Homo sapiens: one gene and its partners. The protein of the gene in region 2 interacts with the protein of the main gene of each other region in a pairwise test. Each region holds a gene or a part of one and is shown on either strand. Other genes may lie near its edges.

Region 1 (7,987 bases), on a different chromosome or scaffold from region 2:
TCTCCCTGATGCTCTTTGTCTCCTTCACACACTCTTCACGCCAGGGCACCGTGCCTCCCGTGTGAGCTGCTTTCAGCCTTGCTGTAGGACATGGAGGACCCCTGAGCTATTTGGGGTCACAAGGAAGCTGTTAGTATGTGGTTCTCATATTCTTAACTGTACAAGAAAGCAAAAGCCCCTTGAGGTCCCTCAGTATCCCTTCCCACCACCTGCACCCCACAGGTGGAGAAATTGCCTGCTTTTAGGGAGATAGCAGTGTAGGCCTCTTTGCTTGCGCCCTGCCTGGCCCCTGTTGGATCTCTTTTCTCTGCAGGAACTGCAGAGGCTTCTGAAGCTGGATCTTTCACTATGACATTTACAGTTGCTTGACCATTTTCTCCCGCTCTTGACAGGTCCCCCAGGATTAGCTGTGGCCACCAGAAGCAAGCGTCGATATGGAACGTGCATTCTGCTTAAAGCTCAGCAAGGCATGGTTGGAGGGAGGCCACTGATAGTCTCATTCTTTTGTCCTCAGAGCCCCCCAAGATGAACCCAGTGGTGGAGCCACTGTCCTGGATGCTGGGCACCTGGCTGTCGGACCCACCTGGAGCCGGGACCTACCCCACACTGCAGCCCTTCCAGTACCTGGAGGAGGTTCACATCTCCCACGTGGGCCAGCCCATGCTGAACTTCTCGTAAGTTGTCTCCCTCCACCCCACCCTGCTTGACTCATGGGCCGCCTAGGTCTCTGAAAATAATTCCAGACTGATCAAAGACAAAGGCCAAGCAGGAAGGTGTAAAAGGAACTTGTCCATCTATTTCAGAAAGGTGTCCTCTTGCCTGAATGTGCAACTGAGACACAGAGTGGTAAAAATGATACTTTCTGGTTCTGTTATATTTTTGGAGATATTAAGCTGACCACCAAATTACAGGCTTGTTAATCCAAACATAAAAACAAATGCATGTACTTAATTTATGTATCAAAATTAATCACCCTGGCCAGTGCGGTAGCTCATACCTGTAATCCCAGCACTTTAGAGGCTGAGTCAGGAGGATTGCTTGAGCTTAGGAATTGAAGACCAGCCTGGGCAACATAGTGAGACCTTGTCTCTACTGAAAAGTATTTAGCCAGGTGTGGTGACACATGCCTGTAGTCCCAGCTACTCGAGAAACTGAGGTGGGAGGATTGCTTGAACCCAGGGAGGGCCAAGGCTACAGTGAGCTGTGATCATAACACTGTACTCCAGCCTGGGTGACAGAGTGAGAACCTGTCTCAAAAAAAAAAAGAAAAAAATTAGTCACCCAATATTACTGAAAATAATAGTGCATGTTTGTATTTTACACGTACCCCTGAGCTATTTGGGGTCACAAGGAAGCTGTTAGTATGTGGTTCTCATATTCTTACCGTACAAGAAAGCAAAAGCCCCTTGAGGTCCCTCAGTATCCCTTCCCACCACCTGCTCCCCACAGGTGGAGAAATTGCCTGCTTTTAGGGAGATAGCAGTGTAGGCCTCTGAAGTAGAGGAGAGCCACCAGGGATGGGGAGTGGTTGAAGTATCTTTATTTTTTAATTATAGAAGTAATACACAGTTTTTTTAAAGTTTAAACAAAATATAAAAAGCAAACCCTCCCTTAGTCTCCATTACACAACTATATGTTAAGAATCTTATTAAACCAACTTGGTACTATTTGTATAATGCCTAGCAGTTTCAGAACGGGGCTGGGCACCTGGCTCTCAGACCCCCAGCTCTGAGACCCTCCATCCCCTTTTAGAAGATCTCATTGTTTTTAAAAATATCTCCTACCTTTTTATATTATTATTGATTGAATGCATGAGGTCAAAGTAATACATCTGCACATAAACCAAAAGGTGAGAATTCTGGGTAATACAAAATAACCCAGAACCCAAGCAGTCTTTTTTAAACTATAGATTATAACCCACGAAAAGGTCAGAAAGTCAATTTTGTGACTAGCATTCGAAGAAAAATGAACCAGAGTGGAAAATATATTTCAGTAAATGTGATGGTATGTGTGTTTGTGTGTGTGTCCTAGAATATGGTATAAATGTATTTCTTTGTCGGGGTTATGTTAGTGAGCATGTACCATTCTAGAAGGTGTAGCACCATCACTAGCCCAACAGAAATTTATCTTGGCCCAGCGCGGTGGCTCGTGCCTGTAATCCCAGCACTTTGGGAGGCCAAGGCGGGTGGATCACTTGAGTCCAGGAGTCCAAGACCAGCCTGGGCAACACAGTGAGACCCTAAAAAAATTTGTTTTAATAAATAAATAAGTTTATCTTGGCCAGGTGCGGTGGCTGACGCCTGTAATCCCAGCACTTTGGGAGGTCAAGGCAGGTGGATCACTAGAAGTCAAGAGTTCGAGACCAGCCTGGCCAATGTGGTGAAATTGTGTCTCTACTAAAAAAAAATACAAAAATACAAAAATTAGCCGGGTGTGTGGCTGGGCACAGTGGCTCACACCTGTAATCCCAGCACTTTGAGAGGCTGAGGTGGGCAGATCACCTGAGGTTGGGAGTTCAAGATCAGCCTGACCAACATGGAGAAACCTGGTCTCTACTAAAATTACAAAATTAGCCGGGCATGGTGGCGCATGCCTGTAATCCCAGCTACTCGGTAAGGCTGAGGCAGGAGAATCGCTTGAACTCAGGAGGCGGAGGTTGCAGTGAGCCAAGATAGCGCCATTGCACTCCAGCCTGGGCAACAAGAGAGAAACTCTGTCTCAAAAAATAAATAAATAAATAAATAAATAAATTAGCCGGGTGTGGTGGGCGCCTGTAATCCCAGCTACTCAGGAGGCTGAGACAGGAGAATCATTTCAACCCAGGAAGCGGAGGTTTCACTGAGCTGAGACCGCGACGAGCCTGGGTGACAGAGCAAAAAAATAAATAAATAAAGTTTATCTCTAAGAATCATAGAGATGGATTCCCTATAGAAACTCATAAGGTTGGTGAAATGATAAATGAGGCTTTTTTTTTTTTGGTTTGGTTTTTTTGTTTTTATTTTTGTAGAAACAGGGTCTGTGTTGCCCAGCCCTGTCTCAAATTCCTAGGCTCAAGAGATCTACCCGACTGGGCCCCTGAAGTGCTGGGATTACGGCCTTGAGTCACCATGCCAGCGAGTTAGTTTTTAAGCCGTGGTTTTGTGCCCTCAGTTCAAGATGCAGGTGCCTGTCTTTTACTGTTGAGAATTTGCACTAATGATGAAGGGTGATAAGAAACCATACCATAACTCAGCACCTGTTCTGTTTTTTACCGTAGGAATTGATTAGATTCTTACACAAGAGCATAGCTCAAAAGAGAAAGATTGTGTTAGGGTGAGGTTTACTGCAAGGGAGTGCTGAGGGCTGACACTGTGTGAGGCCTGGGCTAACGGGCCCAGGGCAAGGATATGCCCTGAGGTGATTAAGAACAGTGCTGTCTTCAGGAGCTGAGGGTCAGCAGGCAAGACAGACACAGCCAAAATGAGCAAGGTGGTGGAGGGGGCGGGCAGGTGTGCGGGTGTGGCTGGAACAGCCCGTCTTCAGGAGCTGAGGGTCAGCAGGTAAGACAGACACAGCCAAAATGAGCAAGGCGCTGGAGGGGGCGGGCAGGTGTGCGGGTGTGGCTGGAACAGCCCGTCTTCAGGAGCTGAGGGTCAGCAGGCAAGACAGACACAGCCAAAATGAGCAAGGTGGTGGAGGGGGCGGGCAGGTGTGTGGGCGTGGCTGGAACAGCCCGTCTTCAGGAGTGGAGGGTCAGCAGGTAAGACAGACACAGCCAAAATGAGCAAGGTGGTGGTAGGGGCAGACAGGTGTGCGGGTGTGGCTGGAGCAGCCACCTGGAGGGCACCCTGGACAGTTCTGGCATCCACGCAGCCCACGCCATCTTGGAGGCCAGTGCCTGGGCTTCTCAACTCCAACTTCCCGTCCAGGTTCAACTCCTTCCACCCGGACACGCGCAAGCCGATGCACAGAGAGTGTGGCTTCATTCGCCTCAAGCCCGACACCAACAAGGTGGCCTTTGTCAGCGCCCAGAACACAGGTGAGGCCCAGCTTGCGGGGCGGGAGGGCTGGCCATGGGAGGCTGCTGCCTGCATTCGAAGCAGGGGTGCAGGGATGCCCATGTGCAACCCTGCTGAGGCATGTGCTGGTGGGGACCGTGGGGATGGCCCTGAGTGTTGAGAGTGGTCCTGGGAGCCTGCGGGGCCGACTGTGTAGCTGTAGGGGCCTCCGGCACACAGGTTGTGTGCGTGCAGCCCCCTGACCATGAGGGCCCGTTTACCCAGTGCCACGTCTGCAGAAATGGCCATCAGCTGTGTGCATTCATTAGGAATTGCTGGAAAACAGGTTGGGCACAGTGGCTCACGCCTGTAATCCCAGCACTTTGGGAGGCCTAGGTGGGCAGATCACTTGAGGTCAGGAGTTCAAGACCAGCCTGGCCAACATACTGAAATCCCGTCTCTACTAAAAATACAAAAATTAGCTGGGTGTGGTGGTGCATGCCTGTAATCCCAAGCCACTTGGGAGGCTGAGGCAGGAGAATCACTTGAACCTGGGAGGCAGAGGTTGCGGTGAGCCAAGAATGCGCCACTGCACTCCAGCCTGGGCAACAGAGCGAGATTCTGTCTCAAAAAAAAAAGAAAAAAAAAAAAACCAGCCTGCGTGACTCTAGATCAGTGTTTCTTCCTGGACGTCCATTCCCACCTGCGACTTCTGCCACTGTATGTGCTAGGGGTGGTTCTGCCAGGCTGATTGGTGGGTGGAGGTGGGAGGGCTGGGGCCCAGTCTGGAGAGGGTGGCCTTCCATAGAGCACCTGCCTGTTCTGTGAGGAGAGTTGTGGCTTTCCCTCCGTATCCACAGGGTGAAGTGGGGAGGAGGAGAAATATCGTTGCTTCCACAGCTGCAGAGTTGGGGCCTCCTGTGGAGTCCCGGCTTGCAGGCAAGGAGAGTCAAGGCTGCCTCTCTGCAAGCCGAGCAGCTGCTGGGTGAGCTGACTGCCCTTCCCTTGCAGGCGTGGTGGAAGTGGAGGAGGGCGAGGTGAACGGGCAGGAGCTGTGCATCGCATCCCACTCCATCGCCAGGATCTCCTTCGCCAAGGAGCCCCACGTAGAGCAGGTGAGCCCAGCCCTGCTCCCAGCACGCTCCTGTCTTCTGTTTGCAGCGGTCTGTGGAGTCAGCCTCTTCCTCTTCCGTGAGGTAGTGCGTGTCTTGCCACTGTGTCTCACAGGCCTGTCTTCACTGTCTCCTTCTTTTCCCTTCTCGGACCATCCAGGGTGGATGTTCCCTAAATTCATTGCCCCCTCCTCGGCTGGTCAGTGGTGTGGTTTTTTTGAGGTTTGTTGTTTGTCACAAACATCCTTTTGCATTTGGGTTGTCCACGTTTACAGATATATCCATATCTATTGATAAATTTTTCCCAGTTAAATTGCTGGATCAAAGGACAGGTACATTTTAAATTTGATACACACTGTTAGATTGTATTTCTTCATGATTATCCTCCCACTATCTCTTGCATGAGGGCAGCTGGTTCCCTACTCCTTAACAACATGGTGTATTTTCAGAATTTCGGTCCTTTCAAATCTGAGAAATAAAAGATGAAATCTCACTCATGTTTTGAATCTAACTTAGAAGCAGGAGGGCTCATTCCCCATGCTCACTGGCTGTTTACGCTTCTTATTCTGTGCACTTGATATTTAAAGTCTTTGCCTGTTTTTCTGTGGATTGTTCTTTTTTGAGGCGGAGTTTCGCTCTGTTGCCCAGGCTGGAATGCAAAGGTGGGATCTCGGCTCATCGCAACCACCGCCTCTCAGGTTCAAGCGATTCTCCTGCCTCGGCCTCCTGGGTAGCTGGGATTACAGGCATGCGCCACCACGCCTGGCTAATTTTGTATTATTAGTAGAGACAGGGTTTCTCCATGTTGGTCAGGCTGGTCTTGAATTCCTGACTTCAGGTGATCCACCCGCCTCAGCCTCCCAAAGTGCTGGGATTACAGGTATGAACAACCGTGCCCGGCCAGATTGTCCTTTTTTTTTTTTAAAGATTTGTAGGAGCTTTCTGTATGCCATGGGTTAATCTGTTGTCTGCTTTATTTGTGACACATACTTCCCTAGTCTGTGGCCTGGTCCATGATGGGCTGTGCCCCACAGGTGCTCAGCTTTCCTGTTGTTGCCTCTGGGCTGTTTCCTTTACAATGTCTGGATTTGGGTTCTTGCTAAGGAAGTTGTTGTCCACTCCAAAATGATAAAAATATTCTCTCATTTTCTTTCTTTTTTTTTTTTTTTTTGAGACGGAGTCTCACTCTGTCACCCAGGCTGGAGTGCAGTGGAGCAATCTCGGCTCACTGCATGTTCTGCCTCCTGGGTTCACGCCATTCTCCTGCCTCAGCCTCCCGAGTAGCTGGGACTACAGGTGCCCGCCACCACACCCAGATCATTTTTTTGTGTTTTTAGTAGAGACGGGGTTTCGCTGTGTTAGCCAGGATGGTCTCGATCTCCTGACCTTGTGATCCACCTGCCTCGGCCTCCCAAAGTGCTAGGATTACAGGCGTGAGCCACCGCGCCCAGCCTGTTCTTTCATTTCTTGTATTCTTACAGCTTTCCTTTTTACATTACCACCTAGACCTTTAATCTCTCTCACATTTGTTTTTTGAGTGACGCAGCGTATAATTCTAACTCTTCCAGATGAGTGACCCAGTAGTCCCAACACCATTCATCGAATTCCATCCTGACTCCACAGATTTGGAATGTCATACATACATTAAAGCACATCCACATAAATATAGGGGTCTGTTTCTTTTTTTCTTTTTTCCTTTTTTTGAGAAGGAGTCTTGCTCTGTTGCCCAGGCTGGAGTGCAGTGGCACAATCTCAGCTCACTGTAGCCTCCACCTCTCGGGTTCAGGTGATTCTCCTGCCTCAGCCTCCCGAGTAGCTGGGATTACAGGCATGTGCCACCATGCCCAGCTAATTTTTGTATTTTTAGTAGCCATGTTGACCAGGCTGGTCACAAACTCCTGACCTCAAGTGATCCGCCTGCCTCAGCCTCCCAAGTGCTGGGATTACAGGCATGAGCCACTGTGCCCAGCCTCGTTTGTCTTTCTTCGTCTGCTTGTCCACTTCCTTACCAGTAACACATTTTTAGCTCTCACAGCTGTATATTACATGTTAATGTCTAAGGGAACGTTTCCCACATTTTTTCTCCAAATTTTCTTACTCATTCTTAAGCATTTCCTCTTCTAGATGAACTTTTGAATAAACATCTCAAGGCTTATAAAATGTACATCAAGACTGCATTGAATACATGAATGAATTTGGGTAGAATTGACATATTTTCATGGGTAGCAATATGCAGCGTGACAGTGTATTACGGTGACTTTAGGTCATGTTTTGTGTATTTTAGTATATAGAAAAGCTTTATTTCTTTATAGTTTTAATTATACAGGTCTTGTACATTTCATGTTAGGGTAAACTCAAGTGTTTTATCATTTTTGTTGCTTGTAAATAGATTTTTTCCCATTTAATCTTCAGATTGATTATTGATAATTGTGTGGACACTTCTGATTTCTCTGTGTTGAACTGGGCCACTGGTGTAACTTTCAGACAGCCAGGATCTTAGGCACAGCATGGATAGAACAACAGGCGTGAATGTTTGTTGCATGCTTGTCCCTGACTCTAGTGGAAATAGTTCTGTGTGTCACCACCTGTAAGATGCTCACTGTAGATTACTTACTGGTAGATAAGAAGGTAGCTTTTTTTTTTTTTTGAGACAGAGTCTCAATCTGTTGCCCAGGCTGGAATGCAGTGGCACGATCTCAGCTCACTGCAACCTCCGCCTCCTGAGTTCAAGCGATTCTCATGCCTCAGCCTCCCAAGTAGCTGGGGTTACAGGCATGCACCACCACACCCAGCTAATTTTTGTATTTTTAGTACAGATGGGGTTTCACCATGTTGGCCAGGCTGGTCTTGAATTCCTGATCTCAAGTGACCCACCCGGCTCAGCTTCCTAAAGTGTTG
Region 2 (9,140 bases):
CTGAGGCAGGAGAATGGCATGAACCCAGGAGGCGGAGCTTGCAGTGAGGCGAGATCGCGCCACTGCACTCCAGCTTGGGCGACAGAGTGAGACTCCATCTCAAAAATAAATAAATAAATAAATAAATAAATAAATAAATAAACAAACAAATAAAGAAATTCACTGGAAAAGGATTTTAAAGGCTGATATTGGAAGAGTTTCATGGACACCTGATGCCTTTGTCTGCCTGGCATAGCTCAGACTTCCTAACAAAATGCCATGGCCAGGTGGCTTAAACACCAGAAATTTATTTTCTCAGAGTTCTAGAGTCTGGGGAGTACAAGATCAAGGTGCTGATCGATTTGGTTCCTGTTGAGGGCTCTCTTCCTAGCTTGCAGAAAGCTACCTTCTCGTTGTATTCTCACATGGTGGAGAGAATGCCAGCAGGTTCTCTGGTGTCTTTTTTATAAGGACACCAATCCCCCCCTGAGGGCCCCACCCTCATGATCTCACCTAAGTCTAACTATTGCCCACAGGCCCCATCTCCAAATGTCATCACATTGGGCGTTAAGTCTTCAACTTTTAAATGATGGGGGGACACAAACATTCAGTGCATAACACTGCCTAATATTCACTCCGCTTTCTGATACTCGCACCCTGGTTTTCCTTTTGGGAACCACCCCTTCCTCACTCAGCTCCTGTGGTTCTACTGGGCTGAACCTATCCCACCCCCAGCTTCATGGGTAGGTAGAACTTGACCTGGCCACCAAAAATGTTCCACTCCTCTGGCCATAGTAATTCGTTGAAAGATGGAACCATGACCCATATTTGGACTAATGAGAGATAGTGCCTATTATGGACTGAATTGTGTGTCCTCCCTGCCCCAAATACATAGGTGGCAGCCTTACCCCCAAGTGTGACTGTATTTGGAGATGGACTCTTTGGGGAGATAATATGGTTAAATGAGGTCATAAGAGTGGGGCCAGAATCCAATAGGACTGGTGTCCCTTTAGGAAGAGACACCAGAGATCTCTCTCTCTCTTTCCATGTACACAGAGAAAAGGCCATGTGTGGACACAGCAAGAAGGTGGCCATCTAAAGTCATGAAGAGAGGCCTCACCAGAAACCAGCCCTGATGGCAACTGGATTTTGAACTTCTAGTCTCCAGAATTGTGAGAAGTGAATTCTTGTTGAGAAGCCACCCAGTATGTGATATTTTGTTATGGCAGCCTAAGACAGTACCAGAGCCACTGGAAAAGACAGGCTGAAATAACGAAGGCAGGATTATTGTGTAAGCCTGAGCTGTCAGAGCTCATGAGAGGGCCTGCCTGAAAAGCCAACACAGAGCAGAGTGAAGCCAGGAGATGGAGGTCCTGACTGTGCCTGAGGAGCACCTGGATCCAGCCATGCCTGAAGTGGGTGTATACCTCTGCATATCACAGTTACTCAAGCCAATGAATTATTTTGTTTTGCTTTTTATTAGTTTGTTTGTTTGTTTTTGAGACAAGGTCTCACTCTGTTGCCCAGGCTGGAGTGTAGTGGCACGATTATGGCTCACTGTAACATTGAACTCTTGGGCTCAAGTGATCTTCCCCCCGCTCAGCTTCTTAAGTTGCTTGGACTACACATCTGGCCAATTTTTTCATTTTTTGTAGAGATGGGGGTCTCACTATGCTGCCCAGGCTGGTCACAAAATCCTGGCCTCAAATGATCCTCCTGCCTCGGCCTTCCAAAATATTGGGATTATAGGCATGAGCCACCGTGCCAAGCCTATTTTGTTTTTTGTTTTGTTTTGTTTTTAAAGACAGGGTCTTGCTATGTTGCCCAGGCTGGCCTGGAACTTCAGGGCTCAAGAAATCTTCCTACCCCAGTCTCCTGAGTAGCTGGGACTACAGGCATGCACCACTGCTCCCAGCTTGAATGAACTCTTCTTTTTGCTTGATTTTAGTTTGTCTCATCAAAAGCACTGTGACTAATACAGAGTCAACTCTAATTTTATTACTTTTTTCATTATATCTGATCAGATATAACATCATAAACACACTGGTGAAGAAGAGTTATAGTCAGAGTACCACTCGAATTGAAGCTTTAAACTGTCAATAAGCCACCTGCAATCCCTCGGTGTAGAGAAAAGGAGAACTTGGACATCTTGATTTCTCACCAGGTATTCAGAGGTCACCTACCTGGTTGGTTCCCTCTTAGAGTGTGACATCTTTAAAGTGGGCTATGAAGCCCTTTGCCTAAGACCTTGCTTTCCCAAGGGGCAGCTATTCACATCTAGCAGACAACACACTAGTGTAGACATCTCAGTGCACTTGGCAAGCCTCTGAAGCCTCTTCTTGTAAGTCAGGCCAGCAATGGCCCTTGCACTGGCAAGCATCTTGCTCAAGCTCTTAAGTGATCATAATAAAGTGATTAACACAGAGTGCCCAGCACAGTGATTACTTCTGATTAGAGGTGGGTGGTGCATTAGTCAACACCAGGCAGAAAAGCCCAGCAATGTTTCTGAGCAGACTCAGGAAGAGATAGTTGTTCTCAAACTTGAGTATGCATCAGAATCACAGAATGATGGTGAAGGGGGGTGGGGAGTGAGGGTGGGGTTGGGAAGACTTGTTAAGACACACACTGCTGAGCCCTACCCCTAGAGTTTCTGATTCAGCAGGTCAGAGTGGGCCCCTAGAATCTGCATTTCTCACAAGTTCGCAGGTACTGCTGGTTGGGGGGCTATACACTGAAAATCACTGTTAGAAGACTGCTGAATTGGACAAAGGCCCCTCAAAGGAGAAATGATCCAGCACTTGGTTTTTCTGCTTCCCTGAAACCCTCATCTCAACAAAGATGCCCTGTTATCTCCACTGTGGGTCCTGAAGCCTTAGACAAGTACAGAAGTGAAATGTACATCTACATAAAAAAATGATACACAGTACTAACTTCATGCCTGTGGGTATAGAGCCAGAAATGTCACAGCACACCTGCATATCTATCACATTGTCACAGCAGCCCCTAGATGCAATTATTCCTGAATTACAGAGAAACAAATGGAGGTACCAGGCAGCTGTGACTGTTGTCTACAGAGAAGACACACGTGGAAGGCAATTTTTCTTGGTCATGAAAATTGTCAAATGTACATAAAGGTGAAATAAATAGTGTAATAAATCCCCAAATGTTTCAACTGCAGTGGACTCTGGCAATGACAGTGGTTCTCAAATTTGAGTGTGCATCAGAATCACCTAAGAGACTTGCCAAAACAGATATTGCATGGGTATCATCCACCAACAAGAATTATTAGGACTTTGCCACATCGAAAACTCTTCTGATGACAAGACAGCACTGGCAGGGAATAAACTCACAAAGATAGTTTTATGTTTCACTTTGCTTTGTTTTGTTCTTGAGGCAGGGTCTTGCTCTGTCACCCAGCCTGGAGTACAGTGTTGTAATCATGACTCACTGCAGCTTCAACCTCCCGGGCTCAAGCAATCCTCCCACCTCAGCCTCCTGAGTAGCTGGGACTACAGGCATGTGCCACCATGCCCAGTTAATTTTTGTATTTTTTTGTAGAGATGGGGTTTCTCCATGTTGCCCTTGCTGGTGTCAAACTTGGGCTTGTGAGCTTGATTTTGGGATTACAGACATGAGCCACCGTGCCCAGCCAGATTTTTTGATGTTATCTCCAAATGAATAAATGTAAGTATGGCCACAGGGACACTGCTCAAAAGGAACATGATAACATACCTCGTTTTGGTAGTCCCGTTTGGGCCTGTCTTCATTTTTATGTTTTTTTCCTTTTCTTTTTCTTTTTCTTTTTTTAAGAGACAGTGTCTCACTCTGTCACCCAGACAAGAGTGCGGTGGCAAGATCATAGCTCACTGCAATCTCGGACTCCTGGCCTCCAGGGATCTTCATGCCTTGACTTCCCAAAGTGCTGGGATTATAGGTGTGAGCCACCACGCCTGGCCTCTTCATTTTTAAAACAACCCAAAAGGGATACAGAATAGAATGTCACTTGGATAGCTGTTTGACAGCTTTTTCTTTTTCTTGTCTTTTTTTTTTTTTTTAATTGAGACAAGGTCTTGCTCTGTGGCCCAGGCTGGAGTGCAATGCCACTGTCATGGCTCACTGCAGCCTCAACCTCCTGGGCTCCAAGGCTCCTCCAGACTCAGCCTCCTGAACAGGCATGTGCCACTGCACCCAGCTAATTTATTTATTTATTTATTTTTATTTTTATTTTTATTTTGAGACAGAGTCTCGCTCTGTCGCCCAGGCTCGAATGCAGTGGCGCAAGCTCTGCTCACTGCAAGCTCCGCCTCCCGGGTTCACGCCATTCTCAGCATCCCGAGTAGCTGTGACTGCAGGCGCCCGCCACCACGCCCAGCTAATTTTTTGTATTTTTAGTAGAGACGGGGTTTCACCGTGTTAGCCAGAATGGTCTCGATCTCCTGACCTCGTGATCCGCCCGCCTCGGCCTCCCAAAGTGCTGGAATTACAGGCGTGAGCCACCGCGCCCGGCCCAGCTAATTTATTTTTATTTTTTGTTTTTTGTAGAAATGAGGTCTGGCCATGTTCCCCAGGCTGACAGCTTCTAACAGAAGCAAACATATGCTCCCCTTGTAACCAGTGCGTTCACTTGCAGATATTTGTCCCAGAGAAATGAGAGTTTGTATCCACCAAAAAAACGTGTACCATAATAGTGACTATAGCCAGAAAAGAGATGAGGGAGGGGGGAAAGGCCGGAAGGAGGGAAGGAGGCAGGCAAGCAGGTAGGAAGGAAGCAAGCTTGGTGTCCATCAACTGGGTAAACGTTTAAAAAATACGGTATCTTTGCACAGTGGAGTACTACTCAGCAATAAAAAGGAAGGAACTGATATGAACTACTTATATTCCCAACAGGATGGATCTTCTAATTTGTTATGTTGAAGGAGAATATTCTGTATTACTTCAAGTTTATGAAGTCCAAGAACAGGCAAAATGAACCTACAGTGACAGAAAGCAGAATACACTGTAGTGGTTGCCTGAGGCTGGATAAGGATGGGGCCAGGGAAGGAAGGTAGGTCAGGAAGGCCCACCACGGAACTTTCTGGGGTGATGGGCACGTTCTATTTGTTGATCTGGGCGACGGTTACACAGGTGTACACATATATAAAAATTAGTGGAGCTGAACACGTAAGGTCTGGGCATCACACTTTATGTAAGTTAAACTTCAGTAAAGTGCTCTCAGCACACATCCGCAGCCGCACCCACACAAAATCCCAGGAGGCTCAGTACCAGCTGTGGTCCGGGCCTTGCCCACCTCGGAGAGGCCACGACCCAAGGCATCCGGTTTCCTCTCGCTCCAGTCTAACTTCCGCGCATCTACGAGGGCCGGGACTGCCGCTACCTTTCTGGAAGGCGCCGGCCGGCCAGTCACCGGAGGGATCCCGCCAGAGGCGGCTCCGCGTCTCCAGCAGCGGGGCAGGGACCCGGGCGCCCCGCCCTCGCCAGCGCCCGCCCCCGCCCGCCCCCGGCCCGCCCTCTGTATCTGGCCCCTGGGCAGCTGCCCGGGGAGGCGGCCAGCGAGCTGGGGCCGCGCAATGTCGCACGGAGCCGGGCTCGTCCGCACCACGTGCAGCAGCGGCAGCGCGCTCGGACCCGGGGCCGGCGCGGCCCAGCCCAGCGCGAGCCCCTTGGAGGGGCTGCTGGACCTCAGCTACCCCCGCACCCACGCGGCCCTGCTGAAAGTGGCGCAAATGGTAAGTGAGCGCGGGGCGCGAGGCCGAGGTTCTACAGGGCGTCCCGGGAAAGCAGGGGTCCGGGAGCGGACGCGCCGGGCGTCTGGACCCGGCCGGAGCCCAGGGAGCATCGCGCAGCGGGCGGGGCACCGCGTCGCTAAAGTTCGCGGCAGGCTTCCTCCGGGAAAGTTGCTGCCGCAGCCCCCGCGCTGGAGCTCAGTCCCCAGAGCCGCCCCGGCCCTTGCTCCCGCGGACCCAGGTCGCCAGGGTCGCAAGTTTCTCCGGCCACCCCCCTGCGAAGCCTGACCCGCCTACTGACTGAAACCACGGGCAAAGTTCCTTTTCGTCTTTCTTCCTCTTCTCTGGGCCGCGCCGCTTCGAACCCGAGCCGGGGGTGGAAGAGTCGCCCAGGCGGCGGCGCTGAGGGAGCGAAACCCGACCTCTTCCCCGTCCACGGCCTCCTCTTTCCTCCGAACCCAGCGCGGCAGGGCTTCCCTGCTCTGTGTGCAGTTTCGCTCGAAGGAGGAGGTCAGAGGGTCTTGTGTTCCATAGTGGGGAAAAAGAACTGGGACCGTTGAGACGGCCGTCCTGGTCCCCTGCGCCCTCAAGTTCCGAGGGAGGGCCCGGGTCTCAGGGGGCTCTGGAGGGCAGGGGGTCAGTTGGGAAAGGCCTGTTGTCAGGGGCTGGTACTCATGTAGGGGAGCCAGACTGTTGAATGGGAGTCACCCGTGGAGCCAGGCAGGATGAGTGTCTGGGCTTGGATTGTGACCAACTCAGCACAAGGGCCTCCTACCAGGGCAGACGTTGCCTGGCCGATTCTCTTGTTCCCCACTCTTTTCTTTTCTCCCCTCCCGTTTTTTTCTTCTTTAAAAGTTTGTAATCTGAAACAACTTTTCCGTTTGTATGATGTGTTTTGAAACTGGGTTGGGCTGTTTGTGAGTCTCCACCATTGTAATGTTTGCACCAAGAACGGTGGGGAGGGGAGCGGTAAGTTTCAAAAAGAGGTGTGGGGAAAGGAGTGTGGGGCTGGACAAGGTCACACACCCAGAAGCTGGGGCCTGCTAAGGTGGCCTGGCCCCAGGGGGTTGGGCACAGGACGTCTGTGCATCTATAGCACTGCCATTCCAGACACTGAGTGTGCATGAGGTGGCCCTCATGTCTTGCTTGGGCCAGACCTAAAGAGAAGGGGCGCTGAGTTCCTGCCTCCCTAAGAACGGTGTCTAGATAGACCAAAAACTAGGAAGAGCCATTTCAGCAACGTACAAAAAAATCTGGTGCTGAGCATTGTTGGGTTTGAGCAGGGCATTTTTTGGCCCAGGCTAAGAGATTTGATCAGCCAAATAGAAGAGACCAGCCCATCTCACCATCCTTAAAAGATGGGCTGGGGTGAGACATATCCTACCTGAGCATTGGAAGGGATGAGTTTGGTAGACAGAGAATGGGATCAGAAGCCTCCATCTTGGCCCCTGAGTTTGCTGGACAAAGATATTGTGGGATGAAAAGTCTTCTTGTTGGTCTATGAGTTTGGTACACAAACATAATGGAGATGAAACCTCGGCAACATAGCGAGACCCCATCTCTACAAAAAAAATTTTAAAACCTTGTGTGGTTGGCATGGGCCTCTAGTCCCAGTTACTTGGGAGGCTGAGGTGAGAGGATTGATTGAACTGAGAAGGTCAGTGAACTGTGCCACTGCACTAGTCTGCGTGACGGAGGGAGGCCTGTCTCAAAAAAAAAAAAAAAAAAAGGTACAAAGAAAAGGTAATGGAGATGAGAAGCCTTCATGTGGTCCATGATTTTGATGAATAAAGATACTGGGAGATGAGAAATCTCCATCTCATCTTAAGCTCCTCAGCTAGCCTCTGGCCTGTGGTCCTTGGGCCAATTTGCAAGTGGCAAGAGTGGGGCCTGTTGTTCCAAAAAAGAGAACAAAGACTTGAATAATTTCTTTATCTGGTTGCTTATTCTCTATGTGCTCCTCTTAAAACCATGCTGAGGAGTCTTACACCTGCCCTGGAGGATTCCCCATCACTGCTGCAGGCTTGTTTGATCAGACCCTCTGGGAGCAAAGTTGCCCTTGCAGGATGGCTGTATTAGTCCTAGTTAGGGCTATCTACTTGGGCCTCTTATCTAACTCCTCCCTATTTTCCCACTTCTCCTCTTTTCTAAGACTCTGCTTGGGCATTTGAGGTTCATTTGTCTTCTTTGCTGGAAAATGCTTGTTTAGCCAAGTTTTAACATTGGGGAAGGGCAGAAGCAGCTAAATTAATGCCACCCATTGGGGCTTTCTTTCTATGGGTCTCTCATTTTGACCATCAGTTTCTCAGTTTCATACTGAACAGGTTGACCCTTTTGTCCTCAGCTTCTCATGAAATGTTTTCATCATGATCTGATCAATAGATCTGCCAACACGTTGTCTTAAGAAATCATTGCAAAGGCTGTTCCACTGGAGAATGACTTCCCTTGTCTTGGCCTCTTCTGGGTCCACCATTACTAGAAAATGAGTTTCTGAGTGAATGTGTGTACTTGACATGTCATTTATACATGTGTAATTTTTATAATCCTCTGGCCATGATAATTCAGTTTCTTTGGTCTTCCTTTTTGGAGTAGAGACACAGTCACAGGTTTTGACTTTTGACTTTAAAGCACTCTTTTTTTTCTTTCTTTCTTGAGAGGGAGTCTTGCTCTGTCACCAGGCTGGAGTGCAGTGGAACGATCTCAGCTCACTGCAACCTCTGCCTCCCGAGTTCAATCAAATCTCCTGTCTCAGCCTCACGAGTAGCTGGGACTACAGGCACGTGCCACCACACCCAGCTAATTTTTGTATTTTTAGTAGAGATGGGGTTTCACCATGTTGGCCAGGATGGTCTTGATCTCTTGACCTCATGATCCGCCCCCGCCTCTGCCTCCCAAAGCGCTGGTATTACAGGTGTGAGCTGCCGCGCTCGGCTAAATGACTTTTTTTTTTTTGAGCGAGACAGAGAGGGTCTTGCTCTGTCACCCAGGCTGGAGGACAGTGGTGTTATCATGGCTTACTGCAGCCTTAACCTCCTGGGCTCGGCGATTGTCCCACCTCAGCCTCCCGAGTAGCTGGGACTATAGGCACCCACCACGATGCCCAGCTAAATTTTGTATTTTTTGATACAGACGGGGTTTTGCTATGTTGCCCAGACTGGTCTTGAACTTAGAGATTCAAGGGATCTGTCCACCTCGGCCTCCCCAAGTGCTGGGATTACAGGTGAGCCACTGCGCCTGCATGAGACTCTTTTTTTTAATAGCTATTTTTTTTTAGCCCTATTATTGTTCTAGTAATTACATACTATATACCATGTGTGTATAATCTCATTAAATGTTTCTAAGAATCCAGTGAAGTAACATGTTTGATAGATAAGGAAACGGGCTAAAGAGTTAAAGAGACACTAAAGTCACACAGCTCTTAGCAGTAGTGGTGGAACC
Region 3 (3,770 bases), on a different chromosome or scaffold from region 2:
GTGTTTAATCTTGACACATTGAACCTTGATATCTGACTGCCTGGGTCGGTCATGTGCTGTGTCATTTGCAGTAAGCAATATGTCCTCCTGTCCATCCTGCTTTGTCTCCTGGCATCTGGTTTGGTGGTTTTCTTCCTGTTTCCGCATTCAGTCCTTGTGGATGATGACGGCATCAAAGTGGTGAAAGTCACATTTAATAAGCAAGACTCCCTTGTAATTCTCACCATCATGGTAAGCCTTAGGGTTTCATTCCCTGGGTTGTGCACCTGCCAGGCTGGGACCCAGGACACTTACACTTGTTTCCTGACTTGCCCTGATGTAGGCCACCCTGAAAATCAGGAACTCCAACTTCTACACGGTGGCAGTGACCAGCCTGTCCAGCCAGATTCAGTACATGAACACAGTGGTCAGTACATATGTGACTACTAACGTCTCCCTTATTCCACCTCGGAGTGAGCAACTGGTATGCTGTTCTTTTAGGAATCTTGCCCCACAGGCCTAAGAGAAGAGTAGGGGGCTGTAGGAATGCCATAGCTGTGTCACTTTCCTTTTTGTCTCCTCATTTCTACTTGTAGGAACTGGTGATGAGGAAGACCTGTTGGGCCCTGTAATTATAAATAATTGTGAGAAAAAACAGCTATCATTTAAGCATTTGGGGAGCAGAATAATTTGTAAGAGACAAAGATTTGCTACAAAATAAGAAGCAGCAGTGTTACAGCCTGAGGTCCATTGGCCTCTCAAAAGGGAAGAGGTTGGCAGTATCAATTAGAGGCTCATAGACTATATTAGGGACAATCTCAGGGAAGTATTTTGCATGTGATGGAAGAATGACCCAAGGTCTTTGGATTGCTAATAATAATACTGTTCTGTGTCAAGCCTGCTTGGCCACAGACCAACTCTGGTATCTTATTTTCAGGTGAATTTTACCGGGAAGGCCGAGATGGGAGGACCGTTTTCCTATGTGTAGTAAGGACACTGTTCTCTCTGTGTGTGCTCTCTACTGGAGGAAAGGGATTCAAAGTCATACTCCATTGATTGGGGCCTGGTCCTGCCTTAGATCTCAGCTTTTGACTTATAGGTTCCCTGGCTTTGGATGTCTTGAGATTTATTTGAAGAATGTATTATTATTATGTGTGTATTTGAAGAATGTATTATTTGATATGTGACAGAAGTGCTGGAATTTCTAAAAGAGAACATTAAGCCACTAAAAACGTTACCAAGCTCCAGCACTTATGTGATGGGTTTGAAAAAACAGAAAGTGGTATGACGCTGTGGGAGGATGAAAATGACAGTGGCAGGGACTGAGAGCTGACAAGCCTTGGCAGCACTTAGGTCGGAAGGGGGAGGGGGGCACCCCAAACAGGACAGTGTAACTCTGCACTCTTCTACTGAGGCTTTAAAAAAAAAAAAACTGACTATTTCCATATTTGCTGTTTGGTAGCTTCTTCTGCACGGTACCTGAGATCCTGGTGCACAACATAGTGATCTTCATGCGGTGCGTCTCTCTTCCCTATCCCGATGGCCTGTCCGGCCATGTGAGCCTACCACCTTTGCTCAGGAGGCCCCTGTGTGACCACAGGGCAGAGGCACCTAGCCCGAGGGGACACCCTGTGCCTCACAGGCACAGATACAGTAGACCCTTGGTGTTCTCTAAACACAGTGTCCACATGCCCTTCACAAATCACCAGTCACCCTGAGCAGTCAAACATTTTCTCCATAAAATGGGTCTAGTTTAACTAAACACTTGATCCCCTCAGAATCCTAATGAGACAGTCATGAACAGAAAAGCTTTCTCAAGATGTTAAGTACTGGGCATTTGACCAGACTTCCTCTCTAGCCACACAAATTACCACATGTCATGGACCTTTAGGGTTGTTTTCTGGAAGCATGGCTGTTAAATTTGCAAGTGACAAGACTCTGCTGCAGACATGAAATATGAGGGGTTAGAGCAGAGTTTCTCAGCCTTGGCACTACGAACATTTTGGGCCAGACCTTTGTTGTAGGGGGCTGTTCTGTGCATTATAGGATGTTTAACAGTATTCCTGGCATCTGCCCACTAGATCCCAGTAGTAAACCCTCCATCCCTTAGTTGTGACAACCCAGAATGTCTTCAGGCATTGCCAGAAGTCTCCTGTGGGGTAAAATCATTCTCGATTGAGAAGCCTTGTTTGGAAGGCCACCTCCTGGCACAGTATCTCTGTGAAAGTGGAAAGATCTTCTGGCCTCCTGGTTACATAACCATGAGGATATGTGCCTGGGGCCCGTGGGTATTGTTCTCTGAACTTGCAAAAAATTTCCTGGGACATTTTTCTGGCTTATTTCATCCCCCAAACATAATTAATTCTTCTTGGTTTTCTTTTCCCTAGAACTTCAGTGAAGATTTCATACATTGGCCTCATGACCCAGAGCTCCTTGGAGACACATCACTATGTGGATTGTGGAGGAAATTCCACAGCTATTTAACAACTGCTATTGGTTCTTCCACACAGCGCCTGTAGAAGAGAGCACAGCATATGTTCCCAAGGCCTGAGTTCTGGACCTACCCCCACGTGGTGTAAGCAGAGGAGGAATTGGTTCACTTAACTCCCAGCAAACATCCTCCTGCCACTTAGGAGGAAACACCTCCCTATGGTACCATTTATGTTTCTCAGAACCAGCAGAATCAGTGCCTAGCCTGTGCCCAGCAAATAGTTGGCACTCAATAAAGATTTGCAGAATTTAATACAGATCTTTTCAGCTGTTCTTAGGGCATTATAAATGGAAATCATAACGTGGTTCTAGGTTATCAAACCATGGAGTGATGTGGAGCTAGGATTGTGAGTGACCTGCAGGCCATTATCAGTGCCTCATCTGTGCAGAAGTGGCAGCAGAGAGGGACCATCCAAATACCTAAGAGAAAACAGACCTAGTCAGGATATGAATTTGTTTCAGCTGTTCCCAAAGGCCTGGGAGCTTTTTGAAAAGAAAGAAAAAAGTGTGTTGGCTTTTTTTTTTTTTAGAAAGTTAGAATTGTTTTTACCAAGAGTCTATGTGGGGCTTGATTCACCCTTCATCCATTGGCTGGAACATGGATTGGGGATTTGATAGAAAAATAAACCCTGCTTTTGATTCATCTGTGTCTCCTCTGATTGCCTGGGTGTTTTGTAGGGATCTCTGGGGGAACCGTAGAATAGTTCCCTTCCAAGTGGGTCAGGATGGAATAGGAGGAAAGAGACTGCACCCTGATTGTACTCCCGTTCCCATGAGTTCCTGTCACAGCAAGCAGCCTCATTTTCTTCCATCTGCCTCTTGCGGCAGGGGGCTACCCTGTTCCCTTCCAGGACAGAGCACTCAGTGCCCCATGGAGGTTGGAATTCAGTCTTGAATAAGACATCCTGGTTTGAGGTTGTAAGTTTCTTGGGTCATCTCCACCTGCTCTGCCACCAGAGGTTAGGCTACAGCCCCAGGATGGCAGAGAATCTAGTTAAGAAGCTTGAGTAGTCAGGTGTTAGAAGTCAGCTCTTCCCATAGCACTGGGACCTCAGGAAACCCTAACAACAACAGGTGGTGGCTGGGGTTGTATATTAGTTTTTGTCTCCATTCCCATAGCTTGGTTTTCAATATTTGCTTAATGATCTGTATAGTCTTGAATCTTCAAACTAAAGCTAAATTTCATGACTGTTGGGCTGACTTCGACCATAACGGAGGAACCCAGAAGCTGAGGCTTAAGTTTTGGTGTTGTCCTGGATCATGTAGTGACACAGGTACATGACAGTGATGACTGATGTGGA

The links.
Region 1: the proteins of CMTM7 (region 2) and THAP4 interact in binary tests that used the Homo sapiens proteins (3 or more experiments, as listed by UniProt).
Region 3: the proteins of CMTM7 (region 2) and TMEM106C interact in binary tests that used the Homo sapiens proteins (3 or more experiments, as listed by UniProt).

What each region holds. Positions count from the first base shown.
Region 1 is NC_000002.12:241,599,001-241,606,987, reverse strand, and holds part of THAP4 (peroxynitrite isomerase THAP4), read left to right. Parts: intron 1-514; coding exon 515-674; intron 675-3,908; coding exon 3,909-4,018; intron 4,019-4,988; coding exon 4,989-5,092; coding exon of another isoform or gene 5,093-5,173; intron 5,174-7,987. UniProt on the Homo sapiens protein: Heme-binding protein able to scavenge peroxynitrite and to protect free L-tyrosine against peroxynitrite-mediated nitration, by acting as a peroxynitrite isomerase that converts peroxynitrite to nitrate.
Region 2 is NC_000003.12:32,386,361-32,395,500, forward strand, and holds the start of CMTM7 (CKLF-like MARVEL transmembrane domain-containing protein 7), read left to right. Parts: upstream 1-5,492; 5' UTR 5,493-5,546; coding exon 5,547-5,705; intron 5,706-9,140.
Region 3 is NC_000012.12:47,965,767-47,969,536, forward strand, and holds the end of TMEM106C (transmembrane protein 106C), read left to right. Parts: intron 1-71; coding exon 72-231; intron 232-322; coding exon 323-463; intron 464-916; coding exon 917-966; intron 967-1,441; coding exon 1,442-1,495; intron 1,496-2,366; coding exon 2,367-2,463; 3' UTR 2,464-3,112; downstream 3,113-3,770.